3 separate regions of the Homo sapiens genome follow, and all the other regions are linked to region 1. Evidence: fine-mapped expression QTL. A gene starts in region 1. Each other region holds a variant in brackets. All regions are shown on one strand. Distances are from middle to middle. Region 1 holds the start of HTR7 (5-hydroxytryptamine receptor 7). Region 2 has its middle 42 kb from the start of LINC02653. Region 3 has its middle 55 kb from the start of LINC02653.

What was found. PIP is the estimated chance that this variant, and not a neighbour inherited with it, causes the effect.
Region 2: its variant is fine-mapped to the expression of HTR7 in aorta (GTEx, PIP 0.99).
Region 3: its variant is fine-mapped to the expression of HTR7 in subcutaneous fat (GTEx, PIP 0.98).

Annotation. Positions count from the first base shown.
Region 1 is chr10:90,855,486-90,861,661 of GRCh38, reverse strand. It overlaps HTR7 (5-hydroxytryptamine receptor 7), which reads left to right and starts at 3,623. Exons shown (of 4, transcript NM_019859.4): 1 at 3,623-4,529. The coding sequence starts at 3,991. RefSeq lists silencers at 3,586-3,955, 3,976-4,025.
Region 2 is chr10:90,579,440-90,585,615 of GRCh38, reverse strand. No RefSeq gene overlaps it. Among named protein-coding and RNA genes, the nearest start is that of LINC02653, 42 kb to the right of the region's middle. The variant A/G (reference allele first, on the strand shown) is at 3,716.
Region 3 is chr10:90,593,026-90,599,201 of GRCh38, reverse strand. No RefSeq gene overlaps it. Among named protein-coding and RNA genes, the nearest start is that of LINC02653, 55 kb to the right of the region's middle. The variant A/G (reference allele first, on the strand shown) is at 2,816.

The DNA.
Region 1 (6,176 bases):
GAGGGAAGAAGGAAGCAACACCTTGATATGGCTTTTAAACACCAGAAAACTAAGGGCAGAACAAACAACAAATTTAGATGAATATTTAGATATTTTATGAATATTTTGTGAAGCTATATCTTTGGCATTTCTTTGTGAGAAAATTACAGAAAAGTATACACTAGATTTTGGCATTTTTATGAGGACACAATTATTTGTTAGTGAAGGTTAAAGGGAAACTGAAAGAATTCCAGATTGCTCTGTCAGGATTTTGGAATAACACAATGATAGATGAAATTTAAACTCAACATAAGCAAAGTAATGCTGCAGAAGCCGAGATTTTCAATAACTATGTTTATGCATTGTGACAGCTTATAAATTAGAAACCTAGCAACTCTTAGGAAATACACTCAGCCATCACTAGGGATAATATAACAGAGGTGACTGTTCTATAAAAAAGGGAGCTTGGACTTGATGCTATATTGACAATGAAGGAGGTAGTAATTTAAAAAATAGTATTTTAATGATTATTTGCTGTATTTATATGTCACACAATTTAAAAGTTGTTATGGAATAAACATTTGTTTCCTCCAAAAAATTGGTATGTTGAAATCCTGCTCCCCATTGTGGTGGCATTAGGTGTGAGAGAGTATCTCATTGTGGTTTTGATTTGCATTTTCTCTGATGGTTAGGGATGATGAGCATTTTTTCATGTTTGCTGGCCACCTGTATGTCTTCTGTCGAGAAGTGTCTGTTCATGTCCTTTGCCCACTTTTTAATGGGGTTATTTGTTTCTTGCTTGTTCCTTCATTTAAGTTATAGATTCTGAACATTAGGACTTTGTCAGATGGGAGAGGGAGATGATTAAGTCATGAGGGCAGAACCCTCCTGAATGGGATTAGTACCCTCATAAAAGGGACCCCAGGCCAGGCTTGGTGGCTCATGCCTGTAATCTCAGCACTTTGGGAGGCTGAGGCAGGCGGATCACTTGAGGTTAAGAGTTTGAGGCCAGCCTGGCCAACATGGTGAAACCCGGTCCCTACTAAAAACAATACAAAAATTAGGCAGGTGTGGTGGCATGTGCCTGTAATCCCAGCTACTTGGGAAGCTGAGGCAGAAGAATCGCTTGAACCTGGGAGGTTGAGGTTGCAGTGAGCCGAGATCGCGCCACTGCACTCCAGCCTGGGTGACAGAGCAAGACCCTGTCTCAAAAAAAAAAAAAAAAAAAAAAAAAAAGAAAGAGAGACCCAGAGAGCTCTCCTACCCCCTTTGCCAGGTGAGGACACAGCAACATGGCTAAATTTACTGTTGCCTTGTTCTTGGTAAATGTTTGTTGTTAAGCCACCCAGGCTATGATATTTTTGTTATGGCATCCCAAAGGGACTAAAACAAGACAAAAGCAAAAACTAGAAGCTGTTGTGAAATATAAATGGGCTACGTGAGGGCTGTAAGAGTGTAGGTGGTAAATCATATTGACTAGAGGTTTAAATACAAATAAAATGATTAATTTTCAAAATCTGTGTGTAATTACTCTGGAATATTATTTGACAGAGCCAAGACAGAATATATAAGCTGAACTGATTAGGGTATTCAAGGGGAAGAATACAAAAGTCAAAATAAGTTAAAATGAGTTGAAAAGTTAAAATGAAAAAAATATCAAAAGTATCTTGGGGAATATACTACATGAAGGAATTTTTAAAAGACCTTAAGACAATTCCAAACCTCAAAATAAAAAAATGGAGACATTTCAATGCAGTCACATATGATCTTGGATAAGTTATAAAATTTCTCCCAGCCTCTATTTCCTCCTCTGCACTGAAGGGTGAACAAATGGTTTCTTAGATGCATTCCAGCAACAAACTATTTGTCTTTTGTCTGAGATTTCCTCTCTCCCAAGATCCCCAGTGGATGCCTAAAACCCCGGATAGTACCCAATCGTATATATACTATGTTTTTTTTTTTGATCTGGTAAGAGAGAGGGCTACTAAGTGACTAATGGTGGATGGCATATACAGTGTGGATATGTTGGACAAGGGATGATTCATATCCTGGGTAAGATAGAGATTTCATCACGCTACTCAGAATAGTGTGCAATTGACAACTTACACATTGTTTATTTCTGAAAATTTCCATTTAATATTTTCGGACCGTGGTTCACCACAGATAACAAACCAAGAAAAGCGAAACAGAGAATAACTAACATAAGTAAGGTTGAAGAAATTTCCTCATCCATCTTAACTGTTAGATAATATTGCTTTGTGGCCTAGGTATTATATTCAACTCTTCCTCTGACTCAATGGATTGGTTTGCTTATCCTAGGCAGAGAGGAGCCTCTGAAATGTTGATCACAGCAAAAGAGCTGTGAACATTAGGGCTTTTTTTTTTTTCCATTAAAACTTTTTCTGAATGTGTACAGGGAAGAATATGGGCATAGTAATCAGATAAACTTGGGTTTGAAACATAACTATTCCTTACCAGCTGATTGCAAGAGCTAACAACCTTCCCTATCTGGAAAAACAGAGCTAATACCCACCTTGAAGAATGAAAGTACTATTCAGCACTCTGATCAATATACTTTGAGGTTTTTATTCCTTTTCTTCTTATTTATAATCCGCTAGGGCCTAACAAGAAAAAACAGATTTGATTATTTTTAGAGTCTTAAACTACAGAAATCACTGCTGGCTTCCAATGAAACCTTCAAACAAAATGGAATGAAGCAAGTCTCACAAATAATAAAAATCAGCCGCTCTGACAGGGTTTGGATACCAAGGGGAATTTTAGCCAATAGGTATTAAATCAACATACACCTCCAGGATTCCTTTATAGAAGAGTATAACCGGTCATTTCTTTGCTTATGTGTAAGACTTCCAGAATGCTACGGGAAAATTAACTCTCTTTTCAATATATTAGGCTTTGAAGTCTAAATATAAAGGCAATCAGGGTCTATTTTCAGAGCGGAGAGGACTGTTTCTAGACATCCAGGAAGGATTAGTCCAAATGGGTGTAACCCCCTTGGAGGCCTTGTCCCCAGAGCATCCTCATCTCCTGGGTGCCAGGGGCTTAAGGAATCCCCCTCCCTCCTTTTTTTCTTTCTTCCTCTTCTCGGAGCTCCCACCCTCACCCCATTCGGCTGCTTCTTTTCCATCTTCGCTTCTTCCCATAAGCGGTCAAAATAGAAAACGGAAGTACCTATTTGTTGCTTAGTGTAGTGCTCAGAGACGTTTTTTTGGTTGTTGTTTAATTAAGAAAAATAAAATCCCCCTCTAGGTTCTTCATTTCGCAATGAGCCCAAACATCCGCTGGCTCATTAGGCCTCTTAACAAAAGAAAAATGCCCCCACTGAACTGTGGCTGACTAGTGTGCGGAGGCTGGGGTCGGCTGGAGGGGTTCTAAGTATCTATCATGCGGCAAGGACAGCTTCCCGGGCGAGGGGACCCGGGATCCCGGGAGGCGCGTGCAGCGCCGCCCCCTCACAGTAGGGAGGCGCGGGAGAGGCGGCGGTGCCTGCCCAGCCCGGGTATCCCGTCCCAGGAGCGCGAGGGAGCGGGCAGCGGCCGGAGGCGGCGGCGGCGGGGACGCGGCGCGGCTGCCGCAGGGGAGCGGCGGCGGCGGCGGCGGCGGCGGCGGGCGCGAGGGGCGGGGCGCACTCCGCAACTTCTGCCGCTGCCGCCCGGGCGCTCTCGGCGCAGCCGAGCTGCTGCTGCGAACTGTGGAGCTGCCAGCGGAGCCCAGCCCGAGCTCCCTCGACTCCGCGCGTCCCAGGCGTCCGTCGGGGGCCGAAGCGCCTCCCGCAGGGAGTCCCCGTGAGGCCGCGCTGCCGCGTTACCCGCAGCGGCCGGGGGTCCGGGGAGTGCGGGGCTCCGAGACAGAGCCAGGCGCCCCCCAGCGGTCGGCGCGGGCCCCATGGCTGGGCCGGGCGGAGCGGAACCGGTGAGGTGAAGCCCCGGGGCCGGCAGCCGGAGGCGCGTGGCCGGGGCGCCGGCTCCATGGGCAGCGGCACACGGCGGCGCGATGATGGACGTTAACAGCAGCGGCCGCCCGGACCTCTACGGGCACCTCCGCTCTTTCCTTCTGCCAGAAGTGGGGCGCGGGCTGCCCGACTTGAGCCCCGACGGTGGCGCCGACCCGGTCGCGGGCTCCTGGGCGCCGCACCTGCTGAGCGAGGTGACAGCCAGCCCGGCGCCCACCTGGGACGCGCCCCCGGACAATGCCTCCGGCTGTGGGGAACAGATCAACTACGGCAGAGTCGAGAAAGTTGTGATCGGCTCCATCCTGACGCTCATCACGCTGCTGACGATCGCGGGCAACTGCCTGGTGGTGATCTCCGTGTGCTTCGTCAAGAAGCTCCGCCAGCCCTCCAACTACCTGATCGTGTCCCTGGCGCTGGCCGACCTCTCGGTGGCTGTGGCGGTCATGCCCTTCGTCAGCGTCACCGACCTCATCGGGGGCAAGTGGATCTTTGGACACTTTTTCTGTAATGTCTTCATCGCCATGGACGTCATGTGCTGCACGGCCTCGATCATGACCCTGTGCGTGATCAGCATTGACAGGTAAGGGCCGGACCGCCCCGTCCCAGGCTCCGGCTGGGGACCGGCTGGCAGCTCAGCCCCGCGCGCTCGCCTTTCCTGGGAGGATCAAGCTAGACTTCAAGGCGGGATGAAGGGCTGCGCTTAAAACACCGCTCCCCCCAATCCACCCTACACCAACCAAACTTCGGTTACGGCATAGCCTATGTACATCTTTAAAAGAAAAACCGGAAATGTTCTGGTTTACTGTAGTGACGAATTTAAGACCAAAGTTAAGAGTATTTTAAGCCTTAGCATTTCCACCAGCGGGTCCCTTGCCTTGGTTTTTGGAAGGAAGGGATTTGGTGCTCCCTGACTTGATCAAGCCTTGCTGTGAGCCTTAAAGAGTCATTAAAAAATAATAATAATAAGTCGGAGAAAAGCCACCTTGCTTACCCCATTGTGGGAGCTACTCCCTAGGCCAGTAAAAGGACCTTGGATGGTTCTAGAATTGGGGTTTGTATGTCTTACACATTGCATCTTTATGATGGTCAGTTCGGAATCGCATTCTTGCTTGTGGAAGTCTGGTTTCAATGTTTGGTAATGCTGTCTGTATCTTGCGAGCTTGCTGACTGGAGCCTTCCTCCAGGTCTGAATGGCTGGTTCTAGCCTTTCATCATAGCCCTTGGGAACCTTCTCTTGAGAACTCCCCCACTGGAGTAATTGAAACAGAGGCTGACCATCTGTCAGGGATGCTAGGGGAAAAATTCCTGCCTTGGGTGTCATATTGAACTAGGAGACCCACAGGGTTTCTTCAGGCTGTAAGGTTACAGGCTTTTGAAATGGAGCTAGTCTTTGACCCTTGAAATATTATGCAGTTGACAACTTGAAGTATGGTCTCAATCCTCTTTGGCCTAAAACAACTCTATTTCACTTGAAACTGAAATATGAGACCTTAATATTCACACTCAGAATTTTGCCGGTGTTTCAAGACTAGTATCCTGTTGTGTTTAATGATACAGAGAAATGGTTGCTTATTTTCTTAGTGGATCTATAGAACCTTTATATGTGTAGATCTTTCAGCCTAGGGGAAATAATTGATGCCTCCACACTTAAAATGACAGTGCCTCAAAGGATGGTCTAGCATGAAACTGAGATTTTCCTTTTTTTCTTCTTGAAAACACTGCTGTTTGTGGTTTGCTGGTACTTAAAATGTTCTGCTGTATGTATTTTTTGCTTGACCAGGGTTTATAATTACTAAATAAAGGAAATAATAGAAAAGGGAATATTTTCAAGAAGAAAAACACATTGTAGCTCCATTTAGCTAACAATTTAGGTTATTTTTCTTTAAATTGATTCTACCATTTTATATATCATGGTAGAAGCTGCTGACAGCAAACAAGGAATTACTTAAGAGCAGAGCATGAACTGCATATGTGAGAATATTAGCACCAAATTTGGCAGCTGAAGTTCTGAATTACAGTAGTTAAGAATGACAAAACATATGTATTTACAGTCTGACTGTGGCAACTGGAATTAGGAGAGTGCACTCAATACACATAGTAAGTGTATACATGAATTATAAGCACAGAAATCTGACTGCTCAGCCAACCAAAACAGAGCATCCTGCATGAATGGAGTCCTTTTAAATGGAACTTAGTGTAATAAAACAAATAACGGTTTATGCTGCAA
Region 2 (6,176 bases), 280 kb after region 1:
CCCAAGGTGATAGGACAGGAAGGATTTAAACTCAGTCTTTTAAGCTCCAGCAGTACCACTCACCTCCCTGTAGGCCTCTCGTTTATTAAAAAATGAGCTTGCAGTGTTACATGAAAGTAATTTTAGTTTATTATTAGACTATAGAATTCATTGCAGTCCTTTGACCATTCTCTTGTCACAAATTTAATATTGTTAATTAAAGAAATAAAATATTAATTTCAGAACAGCAATTTTCTGGGACTCCTGTGATAAACTGATAGTACTTTTGTCTTTTGTACCATGGAACACTAGTTGATACAGTTACATGTAGAAATACTTTAAAGATTGATGCCTTTTACCCTTTTTGAGCTATGATATGATTTATAATTTATTTTGCTCAGGACTTGTGTTGCTCAAGGAATTTATGTATATGAACATGTATTGTCCTTCAAAGAATTCACTGTGGTAGGTCAAATATTTATTTCAACTCATATCCTCATTGGTCCCTCCCATTGGGAATTATTTACAGACCTAGTTAACAATCTGTGAAAAAAAATCTATCCAATTTTAAAAATACTTCTATTAGTGAGATTTAAAATATATGTTTAACATTTATTAAATTAAAGATCTGTTGCCTAGTTCATGTATACCCAAGGTTATATGCTTTAGAGATGATGTGGGAAATTGAGGCCATATTTCTAAGATTTCTCCAATTACTACATATGGTATAGCTGATTAAAAATTGGAAATATTTTTATGCATTGAAACTCACCCACATGCTTCCACTTGGATGACATTGTCAACTGTTTTGCCTCTAGACAAGTCTAAATATAGTTTAATTTCCATCCAGTGTGGAAATCTGCAATCTAATACTGCTGATGAGCTGCCCTCCAAATCCAACTTTTAAATTTTTGTAAACATTATTGATATTAGTTAGATTAATTTCAGATTTGCAAAAAGGCACATACATGGTTTTTCTAACCATTTCGGATTTTGACTTATTGAGAAAAAAATGTTTTTTCATTTTCTTTTATTTTTTTTAAGTAAAGGTGAGTCAAAGACAACTGTCCAGAATGTTATGCAGAAAAGCTTTCTGTGTTGTTGAAGAATGTGGGCTTTGGAGTCAGATCACCTTACTTAAAATCTGACTCTGCAACATACTGGCTACCTGTCTTTAAGGACCATGTGTGACTTTTCTGTGCCTCAGTTTCTTCATCTCTTTTCTGGTCTCCATCTTGCTATTGAAAACTTTGGTATAACTTTAATTACTCCTTTGCAGGGTAATCTATCTTTTTCTCTTTCTTCTCCTTTTATGTTTTTATTTCCAATGTCTTTGATATTCTGCTATTTTTCTATGATAAATATACATGTAGTTTTTTTTTTATTTTGCTCAGGACTTGAGCTTATGCAATCTTATGTTACATGTATTTTATTAACTTGAAAAATTTCACAGACCTTACCTTTTTGAATATTGCTCTCCCACCTCTTCCTTTCCTCATACTCTTAATAGACACATGTTGGACCTTCTCCTTTTGTTCTGCGAATCTTTTAACCTATTTTACATTTCTATCACTTTATGACTCAGTGCTACATCTTGGGTTATTTCCTCAGCTCTATCTTGTTACTTGATTCTCCCACTGACTATGTAGAATTTGTTGTTTTTTCCAGTCTACTGGATTTGAAATCTCAATAAATATTTATTTCATTTCTATAAGTTCTTTTGTTTCTTAGACTTTCTATTTTTTGTTGTTTCTTATTCTTTGATTTTCATTTTTTCTTTTATCTCTTTAGCCATTTAAATTATTTTATAAGCTTGTTCAGATTATTATTTGTCCTTCTAGGTTCTCTACTAATCTGATTTATTCTGTCTGATAACTATTTTCTAGCACATTTTGTAATTTTTGATTAAGAAATTCTTGTATGTCGTTTTTTTTCTCTTGTAGGAATTTCATATGACATTGGTTCAGAGCAGTTTTTCATTTTCCTCTGCTACATACTTCAGTGAAGTAGGCTTGGATTCTCATCACTCATGAACACTGTAAATTGGACTCTACATCTCAGATTACTTAAGCTTGAGGTTTTGATTTCTCATGGTAATTTTTTTTTTTTTACTCACCCAGAACCCAAAATAAAGAAAATGTTATTGCTGGCATCCTAAGACATGTAGACACATTTTATCGAGCTCCTCATTTTCTGTGGGCGTAGCACTTTAAGGGTCCTGTCTTTATACTGGGATTTACATCCCCACTCCTGACCTCACATAGGTTTAATTTCTCTGCATAGATATTAATGTCCAACACCCTAGCAATTAGAGATCTCCTGAGTTCTATACTCTCCTGCACACCACTCATGCCATCCTGGCCACTGAAGCATCAACTTGTGTGCTTACCACTCTTTTAGTTCCTGATGTCTGGGGATTTTACTCTTTTTTAGCTGCCTTAGTAATGTATTTTAAAAGATTCTTTTTTACTTTATTCAGAATTTGTAAGCATTTGCAGCAGGAGTAGTTTATTCATTTGTTTAGTCTATCACATTGATGAAACCAAAATTGTAGTGTCATCTTGAGGATTAAATGAGATTTTGCATGTACAAAGTTTAGCGTATTGCCTGACTTAAGTTTGATCATATTTTTGATATTAGCCATTATTATAGAACAATTTGTGTAGATTCAAAATGAACCTCAAGCTACTGCTGAGAGGAGGAAGAAGCAGTTTTAGTACCTATGTTTTTGGTTATTTCCACACAAAGTTCTATGATTAGTCATAGGCTTAGGTACTGACCAGCATACATAGTTTCCAGCACTGTTCCTGGAAGTTCTCAACTTTTAAAATTATACCCTCCAATGTTGGATGTTGCCAGTGGATTCTTGTTTTTGTCCAATTTTTGTCATAATAATTTCACTGTGTTTTTCACAAAGGTTTTATGAAGGACAGTCAAATTCTTTGCCTACAAAACGATACATGGTGTCCAGAATACCTTTTACTAACCTATCAATAAAATTAACATAATTTGCAAAGATGACAGGAGATTTTCTCCAATAAAATGAAATCCTAGACCATCTAGGGCAATGAACAAAAAAAGTATTAACAGTAGCTCCTGCTTAACTATGTCATCTAGTACAATTAGTGTCATAAGTCATTGATGCTAAGCAGATGGTAATATTTTCTTTGGCAATTAATGAAAACATAGTACAGTGCTATGAAAAAAAAATGGTATAATATGACTCCATAAAAGAATGAAGAACACTGATTAAGAGATATATTCTAGATTCTTTAGTAGAAAATTAATCCTTAGTTTTGTGAAATTTTCATAAAAATTTGAAATGAATACATACATATTATATCAAGAAAAAGTATTCTTTTTTATTATACTTTAAGTTCTAGGGTACATGTGCACAATGTGCAGGTTTGTTACATATGTATACATGTGCCATGTTGGTGTGCTGCACCCATTAACTCGTCATTTACATTAGGTATATCTCCTAATGCTTTCCCTCCCCCCTCCCCCCAAGTATTTTTTAATTAAACTATATACAGAGTTATTTATAATTAGCAAAGATGGAACTAACCTATAACCTATTAGCAAAGATGAAATTAACCTATAAACTAAACTATAATGAGAATGGTTAAGCATGCTTATAGTCTTTTTTAACCATAGAATATTTTGGTGTCATTAAAATAATGTTTATGCAAATAAGAATAACCCAGTATCACCACCTTATACTCAGAGCAAAATG[A/G]TTAGCTGCAAATGGTTTTATTATTAACAAGAACGAATAAAAAATAAAGCAAGTATACTATTCAAGAATCTAGAAAAATTAAAAATTAGGCTAAGGAAAATAGAAATAGAAATAAACAATGATAAAAGCAGAAGTATAAATGAAGCCATAAATGAGCTTTTTGAAAAGTCTAGTAAATAGCTGAAATCCTGGCAATGCAAATGAGGAAGAGAAGTCATACATATGTAATATTTGAAATGAGAATGAGGATATAACCAGAAACATTAAATCAATTTAAAAACAAAATACTAATAATATGGAGAATCCAAGTGGAATATTTTGAAAATATTAACAAATAAAAAATATCTTAAAAAGAAGTAGAAAGTGTATATAATATAATGGCCATACTGAATTTTATATTTTATCATGAATTCACCATTGATTTGATTTCAGCCTGGACCATTTTACAGGTGAATTCTTTCAGACCATTCTTAAGGTATTGAATCTATTCCAGATTTTTGATTAGAAATCTTAAATTAAGGCATATTTATTACTCTCCTTTAAAAAAAAATGAAACCTGTCAGAAACAGCAAGGAAAAAAAGAAAGGGAGTAATCCACCATCTACAATGACCTAAGAAATAATGTCTACTACAGCTTCAAACTATGAAGTATTCTGGCCAAAGATATCTCTACAGAGGAGAAAGCTTGTTGATAGTCAAGTGGTATTTGCATTCTGCCAGGTATGGGTTTCTCTGAAAGTAAGCACTGTAGTCCTTAAATGAGAAGCCACTGACTGACTGCAAGCTAGAGGAATGAGGCAGTCATGAGAAATGCAGGCATGTCCCTGTAACGACTTAGTTAAAAAACACAGAAAGTCAAAAACTGCAACTGAAGAATACAGCTTATGTCATTTCTATGGTCTCTAACCAATCCTCCTAATTGAGGCGGATGCTTAGAATAAGGTAGAGTGATTCAAGGAAAAAGACAAAGCAGTTGCATATTGTAACAGAAAGCTCATGGGGCAGAAACAACTAATCATAATGTTAACCCTTGTTGAACTATTATATGTGGCAGAAACTGTTCTAGATTTAATAGTGACTCATTTAATTTTTATAACAAGCTATAAAGGGACTATGCAGATAAAAAAACAGAGATACAGATAATTTAAAGTACTATTTCAAGACCAAAGAGCTAGCAGGGAGCAGCATTGGAATTTGAATCCTGTGGGTGACTTCAGAGCATAGGTTTTGAACTACTGTCTTCTGTACTCCCTTTTCTCCCTACCCTCAACTCTACTATGCTTTTCCCTCGGACACTAAAAGATTTAGTCAGAGAATAAAGGAGAGATCAGACAAAAGAGAGGCTAGAGATTGCCAGTTCACACTCCTCTCTCCATTTTCTCCACAGAATAGTCTTGTATTCCTCTCTAATTTGTCCTGAGCGCTCTCTCTCTGGAGATTGGCTATAAACTCCAGCCTTGCCCTGATGCAGATCCATGGGATTTGATCCAGGATGTTTACAATATGCCTTTCATGGGATACAGATGCTTTTTTTTTTTTTAATTCTGGCAGATGGCTTAATGCCTAAGTGTACAACATATGACTTGGTGTCCCTCTCACAGTAAATTTGTCTATGCTGGCAGATACCCCTATGGCTCTTGTCTGACCTGTGTCCAGTTTATAACACCAAGATAGCCACTCTCCAGGAGAGCTTTGACTAGAAGGAAAGTTAGATGTGGGTGTGTCAATTAGGTAAGACAGAGGAGGCAACACAGCACAAACACATGAAATGTCAGAAGCAGTTTATTATGTACAGATCCCAAAGAGAAGAGGGGTGTCAATGAGGGTTGACAGGAAGTCTGGAGCCAACAGAGTGCCCAACCTGTAGGTGGAGTGTGGAGGAAGATCTATGAGCCAAGGACTTTATTAGGGTGCAGGGCATTACCCAAGCAGGCTTCCCACAGGAAATTCTAACTGGCATGTTTAGAGCAAGCTAGCATGAATCTCAAAGGGTCATGTTGTGACTGAGAGTGGTTACTGTGGCATGTATGTACAGTCTATGTAGGTGTGGGGTCAGTGGAGTGAGTCAGCTAGGTTGTATCTCTATGTCCCGTAGGGAGGTAGCCACCAGGAGGCAGACATTTGGATTGACCACATTGAGGAACTGGGAAGAGGCAGAGAACTGGATATGTGTCAAAGGTAACTAAGCCTTGCTTCTGGTATGAGAAAGTTAAACCTAGATTCAAAATGGATGCTGAAGCAACATAAAGTTTTAACAATTTACTCCACACAGTTCCTTATCTGGAATCTGGCAGATGAATCATTCAGAGATGAGTAAAAATCTTAAACAAAAGGAAATAAATATACATTATTAAATGAGTTGCCCAAAGAATGAAGGGTTCAGTTCAATAGAATTTCATGTTCTTAAAAAATTACAGACAATTTGATATTTCTAAAAATAAAAAATGCTTAGGAAGAGGAT
Region 3 (6,176 bases), 260 kb after region 1:
AGCTGTGGTTAGTACTTTTACAGTCTCATCTCAAACCACATTCTCCCTGCTCTACCCTGCTTCAGCCACACTGGCCTCCCTCGAGCTCCTTTAGTCCATACGCCCCTTATTTTCTAGGGATATCACCTGGGCTATGCCCTGTGTCTAAACTGTCCTTCTCTCAGTTCTCCACATGCCTGGGAGGCCCTTTACATCCATCAGGCAACAGTTTGTCTTTCCCTCATTAACCAATCATTCCTTGAAAATCTCATCCAAATTAAGCTCTACCAACTCCATGATACTTTTCTCTGTTCCAGGAGAGGAGCCCTTCCCATTATTGCTTTCTCTTTTTAGAGAGCAGCTTCCTCAATGTGGAGATAATAAGATTATTTAGCTAGCAGGCAGTCTGGATTTGAGTGTCAGCTGTTTAAAGGAGTTATGTGGAAAAGCCAGGTGATCAGTTCCTGAGGCACTTGAGGCCCCTGGGAAGTTAGAGCATCCTCTGTGGGAAAGGAAGCCCCTCGTTCCAAAAGAGATAAGTTCAGATACAACACCATCTGCTGGGGAAGCAAAATACCTTGTTTCAGTTGGTTCCCCAGGTCGCCGTTGGACAATTCTGCTCGTTGCATCAATGTAACATATGGTAGTGACTGGGATATAGTAGATGTTCATATTTTTTTTAATACATGAAAGAATGAATATATGAAACAATACAGAAGGCTGGAGAGTCTCTGGAAATTAGGATTTGGAAATATTCAGATTCCAAGAAGGTATTCTTCTGGGCTATCTACTAATAACTAAAGATCCGGATTTATATCTCTGGAGGGATTAATTTATGGCACATAGCTTGAAAATCCATGACATTTCATAGTTTTCTAGGAACTCATGGTGATCAGCTCTTTTCCCTGGGAAACTAGAGGCATCCTGGAAACCATGTCATAATATAGAAAACTTTCAGAGAGGGAGGGCCTTGAGAATCTGGCCAACCCCCGCCTCCCGCAAAACACAAAAAAAACCCCAGCACTTCCCAGAACACATGAAAAGGATGTATAGAAAGTATAATTTAGTCTCTGTATGTTGCCTTTTAGAAACGTACAATCCCTATGGCTTCCAGATCCTCTCAGGGATTGCGGAATTGGTAGGTAAGACATATTTTTGCCTAAGGGCACTTGAAAATTGTTTTTATTCTTCAGCTCAACTCACTAATAACTAAGATGCCTCAGAGTTCACTGGCAACTTGGAGATGAATAGATTCTTCTACCCTCAGCTTAGTCTCTTCATAATAATAAAATACCAGGGCTTTCCAGATCTAATGGCAGTACACTGCCAAGCCAGCATTTTTAGGGAATAGGAGGTGGGGAATCAGGGAACTAGAAAGATATGGGAGATAAAAGCATCCATAGTGAGGGAAGAGATTAGAAAGGAGAGAACAGGGGACTGCATTTAGTCGAGGGGAGTGATTTCAAGGAGGAAACGATTCTAGCCAACCTGAACAAAGAGATGACTTAGATATAAAGATATAGGGGCGTTTTATGGACAACAATGGACAGAAAATAGGAATTAGCAATTCAATTTGTACTCTCTCCATCTCTGTTTCTCTGCACATACATTTTTCATTCTTCTTTCTCTGCCCTTCAGCTTTCTCTACCTCTTACTTTACATGGAGAGGTATGATTGTCTCTCGATGACTTCATTTTTGTTTTTAATGTAATACCTAAGCCACAGCAGAGACTACCTAGCTCTCTTTAATTTGCACTTCTCAATTATTTTGGGAGGATATATGACTTGTCCAGCTTGGGTCAGGGGTCTAACTCCAGACCAATCACAAAGGTTGTAGATCTGGCTTAAGTAGTGAACAACTCATAAAGGTCCATGCCTATGGATGGGAAGTTAGGGGGACAGGGCCTTGAGTCTCATCAAGGACTGGGCATTTACCTCCAGAGGTGTCATGTCAGGTGGTAGAAGGAGAGTCTTCTGCAGAGGAAGAAGCAAGGAAGGAGGGGAATTAGAGGGAACTTGATAGATGAGCTCTTCAAGATAGAGTGCTCCCCAAGCTCTAGCTGCCTTTATTTATCACCTGTTTTTATAAAAGATAACCTTTGAATGAGACTTTCGTAGAGATTTGCAGGAAGGAAGCAATTGGAAATGGCTGGCTAGGGTAACACATCTGGAGTGTATATCTGACAATAGGTCTGGTTAGTCACTGCTTTAGGAGCAGACATGGTCTTAAACTCTCTGTACGCCTTCTTTCATCCTTCTCTATGCTCTATGACCAAAGCAACACATTTTAGGGAAGTTTGGGTGGAATTAGAGGTATCTTCCCAGAGATAGCAATTTTTTCTTTAAGGGCTTGAATGTGATCTTCCTCCTGGCCTCATTAGAAACAGGATCAGCCATCCACATTCCATGAGCCCTGGAGTTACCTGGGGCTCTCTTTAATCTCCCGTACCTAGGACTTTTCTACATAAAGCTTTTTTATCCTTTATTCTGTGACATTTGCTTTGGCTATTATCTCCAGAAGTTAAACTATGTCGAAAGGTTTTTGAAAAATATGAGTGTATTGCCCTGACTCATTGTCATGCGAATAAAAAGACAACTTAAAAGGCTACAGCAGGTATTAAGAACAGTGTTTCTTTACTGAATCCAGGCTGGTGAGTCTTAATCAAAATTTTCTTTCTCATAACCTCCATGTTTCTGAAGTGCCTTTCAAACAATTTATTTTAGAATCTGTGTTTCATTTAGGTCCCTCTGGACATCACATATTAAATTCAGAGAGGCACTATTTATGCCCTCCCCAGGGCAATCTCCATTCCTCTCCCCATACTCAAATTTCCCC[A/G]AAACAGTTTTATCCATTCTCTTATTTAGTGTTGGTTTCCACTGGGGTTTTCCCTTAGGACCTAAGAAAATGAGGAAATAGATGGCTGTTAATGGTTTTTTGGCAGTTTATGAGGGTACAGAGTTTCCTCGTCAGTTTCTTCCCCCAAAATAAAGATCCACATGTCCATTTAATGCCTTCCTCTCAAACTATCTGGACGGTCTTCCCTAAAATAAACAGGACATATTATTAGAACAGAGAAAGACATAAAATGAAATGAGGAAATAGATGGCTGTTATGGTTTTTTTGGCTGTTTATATGGGTACAGATTTTCCTCTTAGGTTTCTTCCCCAAAAATAAAGATCCACATGTCCATTTAATGCCTTCCTCTTAAACTATCTGGACTGGGCTTCCCTAAAATAAATGGGACATATTATTAGAACAGAGAAAGACATAATAAAAAAGAAATAGGACATATGTACACTGTAATCAAGGTGATATTTTAATTCATCTGGTGTTTGTCCGGGCCCTCTCTGGAGGCTCATTCCTGCCATGTAGTCTTGCTCTTTCCACAGTCAGGAAAAGAGAGGATCAGAAGTTAAATCCCTGTTGGGCAAAGTGAATATATCAGTTCGCCAACCATGGATCTTGCCTGAGAAATTTGTGGAGCGGTGTTTTATGGTTTCTTTGAGTTACAAAGTTTTTGAAGCTCATTATTGGCTATAAAGTTTGGACCATGTGTGTCGGAAAAGGAAAATAGACTGTAGTTGCAACACAGTTCGGCATCACAAGCAGGGAAGATGTAACAGAGGCATGTGGATGTTAAAAGAAGCATAGTCTCTATTTGGGCAGGACACAGTACAGGGGAGGAAGAGATAGGAGAGGCCCCAGGAGGAAAGATTAAAAATCAGGTCAGCCTAAGGAAGAGTCTCAAGATGCATGGAGAATCCTTCTCAGATTCTTGATTACTCTCTCTCATTGACATTGAGAGCTAGTTTTCTTGATTTGATCTGGGGCAAAGGGAGCTATAATATGCCTGTTCTAGGGTGAACTGCAAAACAGAAAACTCTCTTCCCAAAACTATCACTTGGTAATGGCTTTGACACCTTCCATATCCTTCTCCTTTTATACCTCCTCCCCAAGTTCATGGAGGTCTGTGCTTTCTCCCATCCTTATCAAAACCTACTCCCAAGAAAGGAAATTATAAGCTTGATTATATAGAAATGAAAAGTCCTACTTCCACCTTCTGCCCATGACATTTGCCATTTAGTAGAGAGAAAGATTTGAACCGGAGAACCACACATTAGAGTTTCCATATTTCAAGTTTTCTCTGGCTACTTGCCTGTTTTGGTTTTCCATGTACCAATAAGATCTGCTGTCTAAAGTTTAGCTTCCTTTTCCCCCTAGCAATTATCTTCTGTTAGTTTACCTTTTTTATCCCATTTTATCCCATTAGGCTGCAACTGAAGTTTAATTAAGACAGACTATACAAAGCCAGAGTTTGGTATGTTGCTACAGAAGCTGTTTTTAGATATAAGCAATTCCTCAACACAGGTGTCCTCCCGAAGGTTATGAGCTCCTTTTTACCTGCCAGACTCCCTTTCAGTGCCACAATGTCTACCTGGTCAGCGTGTGGAGGAGGAGACTCTACCTGCTCTCCTGAAGCTGGGGGGTCAAGACTATCTCCCAGATCCAACCCTGTCTCATAGTGGCCTCAATGCACTCAGAATTTCTAAGCAGGAGAATGTCAATAGGGCAGTGCTATTTATAGGTAAATATTGGGTGGAGCAATTAGCTTGTTCTATGTTGTAAAGGTTCTAATACTAAAAAGGAGATAGGTATCCAAGATGGAAGAAGGCTGACTGACTGCCAGTGAAAGAGAAGGGGAGTAGCTACATATTAATGGATTTTAAAGCAGTGATAGAATTCTCAAGTAGCTTAGTGATATGGTTTGGCTGTATCCCCACCCAAATCTCATCTTGAATTTAACTCCCATAATTCCCACATGTTGTGGGAGGGTGGTGGGAGGTAATTGAATAATGGGGGTGGGTTTTTCCTGTGCTGTTCTTATGATAGTGAGTAAGTCTCATGAGATCTGATGGTTTTATAAAGGTCAGTTCCCCTGCACATGCTCTCTTGCCTGCTGCCATGTCAGATGTGCCTTTATTACTCCTTCACCTTCTGCCATGAATGTGAGGCCTCCCAGCTATGTGGAACTGTGAGTCCATTAAGCCTCATTTTCTTTATAAATTACCCAGTCTTGGGTATTTCTTCATAGCAGTATGAAAATGGACTAATACACTTAGTAAGTAAAATAGAAACCAGTGGTTCTCATTTCTGGCTATATTACAGAACCACCTGGCACTTCTTAAAGTACTGGTGCTTGGGCCCCATGCACAGAAGTTCTAATTTAATTAGTCTGATTGAAGCCCTGAGCATCAGTGTCATTACAAAGCTCCCCCGGTGAATCCAATTTGAAGCTGAAGTTGAGAAATGCACATCTCAGACCAAAAGTGTCCAGGTTTTTCAGTGTTTGCAGTACACAGGTAGAAATGGCTCCTTAGGCCAAGGGGAAATAAGATTCTATCTTGCACTGTACAAATCTGGGCTCTGTATGTGAGTGGAAGGAGCTTCTGGAATCTGATTTTTTTTTTTTTTTTGAGACAGAGTCTCGTTCTGTCACCCAGGTTGGAGTGCAGTGGCATGATTTCGCCTCTCTAAAACCTCCACCTCCTGGGTTCAAGTGATTCCCCTGTCTCAGCCTCCCATATGGCTGGGTCTATAGGCATCTGCCACCACGCCTGGCTAATTTTTGCATTTTTAGTAGAGGTGAGATTTTGCCATGTTGGCCAGGCTGGTCTCGAACCCCTGACTGCAAATGATCCACCCACCTTGGCCTCCCAAAGTGCTGGTATTACAGGTGTGACCCACCACGCCTGGCCTAAAATCTGCTATAAGCCTGCCAGGTGATGCTGATTCAGATGGTTCCATGAACTTTACAGAGTACTCTAAAATAGAGAAAAAAGCATCTCCTTTTTATTCATCTATTGTTTATGATGAATATGTTATTTTGTTTAAGTTCCCAAAGAAAATCCTAGGAGGAAAGGGACATTATTTCAGGTTACAGTTAAGTAAACTCTAGCAAATTGTCAATAAATACAAATCTAGTAAAAGCAAAGCCTGACATCACACAGGAGTATTTAGTTGAAGGGCTAAGGATAAGGAAAGCATTAACCACAGACTTTTCCCTAAGCTTTTCTAGGCTTCTTGTTGGTACACTAGCTGGCCCCCAGGGGTCATGAGCGACTAGCTCAGAGGAGGTGGGTGAGAGGAGCTGGTTGAGAAGAAGTGAGAAATGCAGCTGTGGGCATAGGCTGGCCTG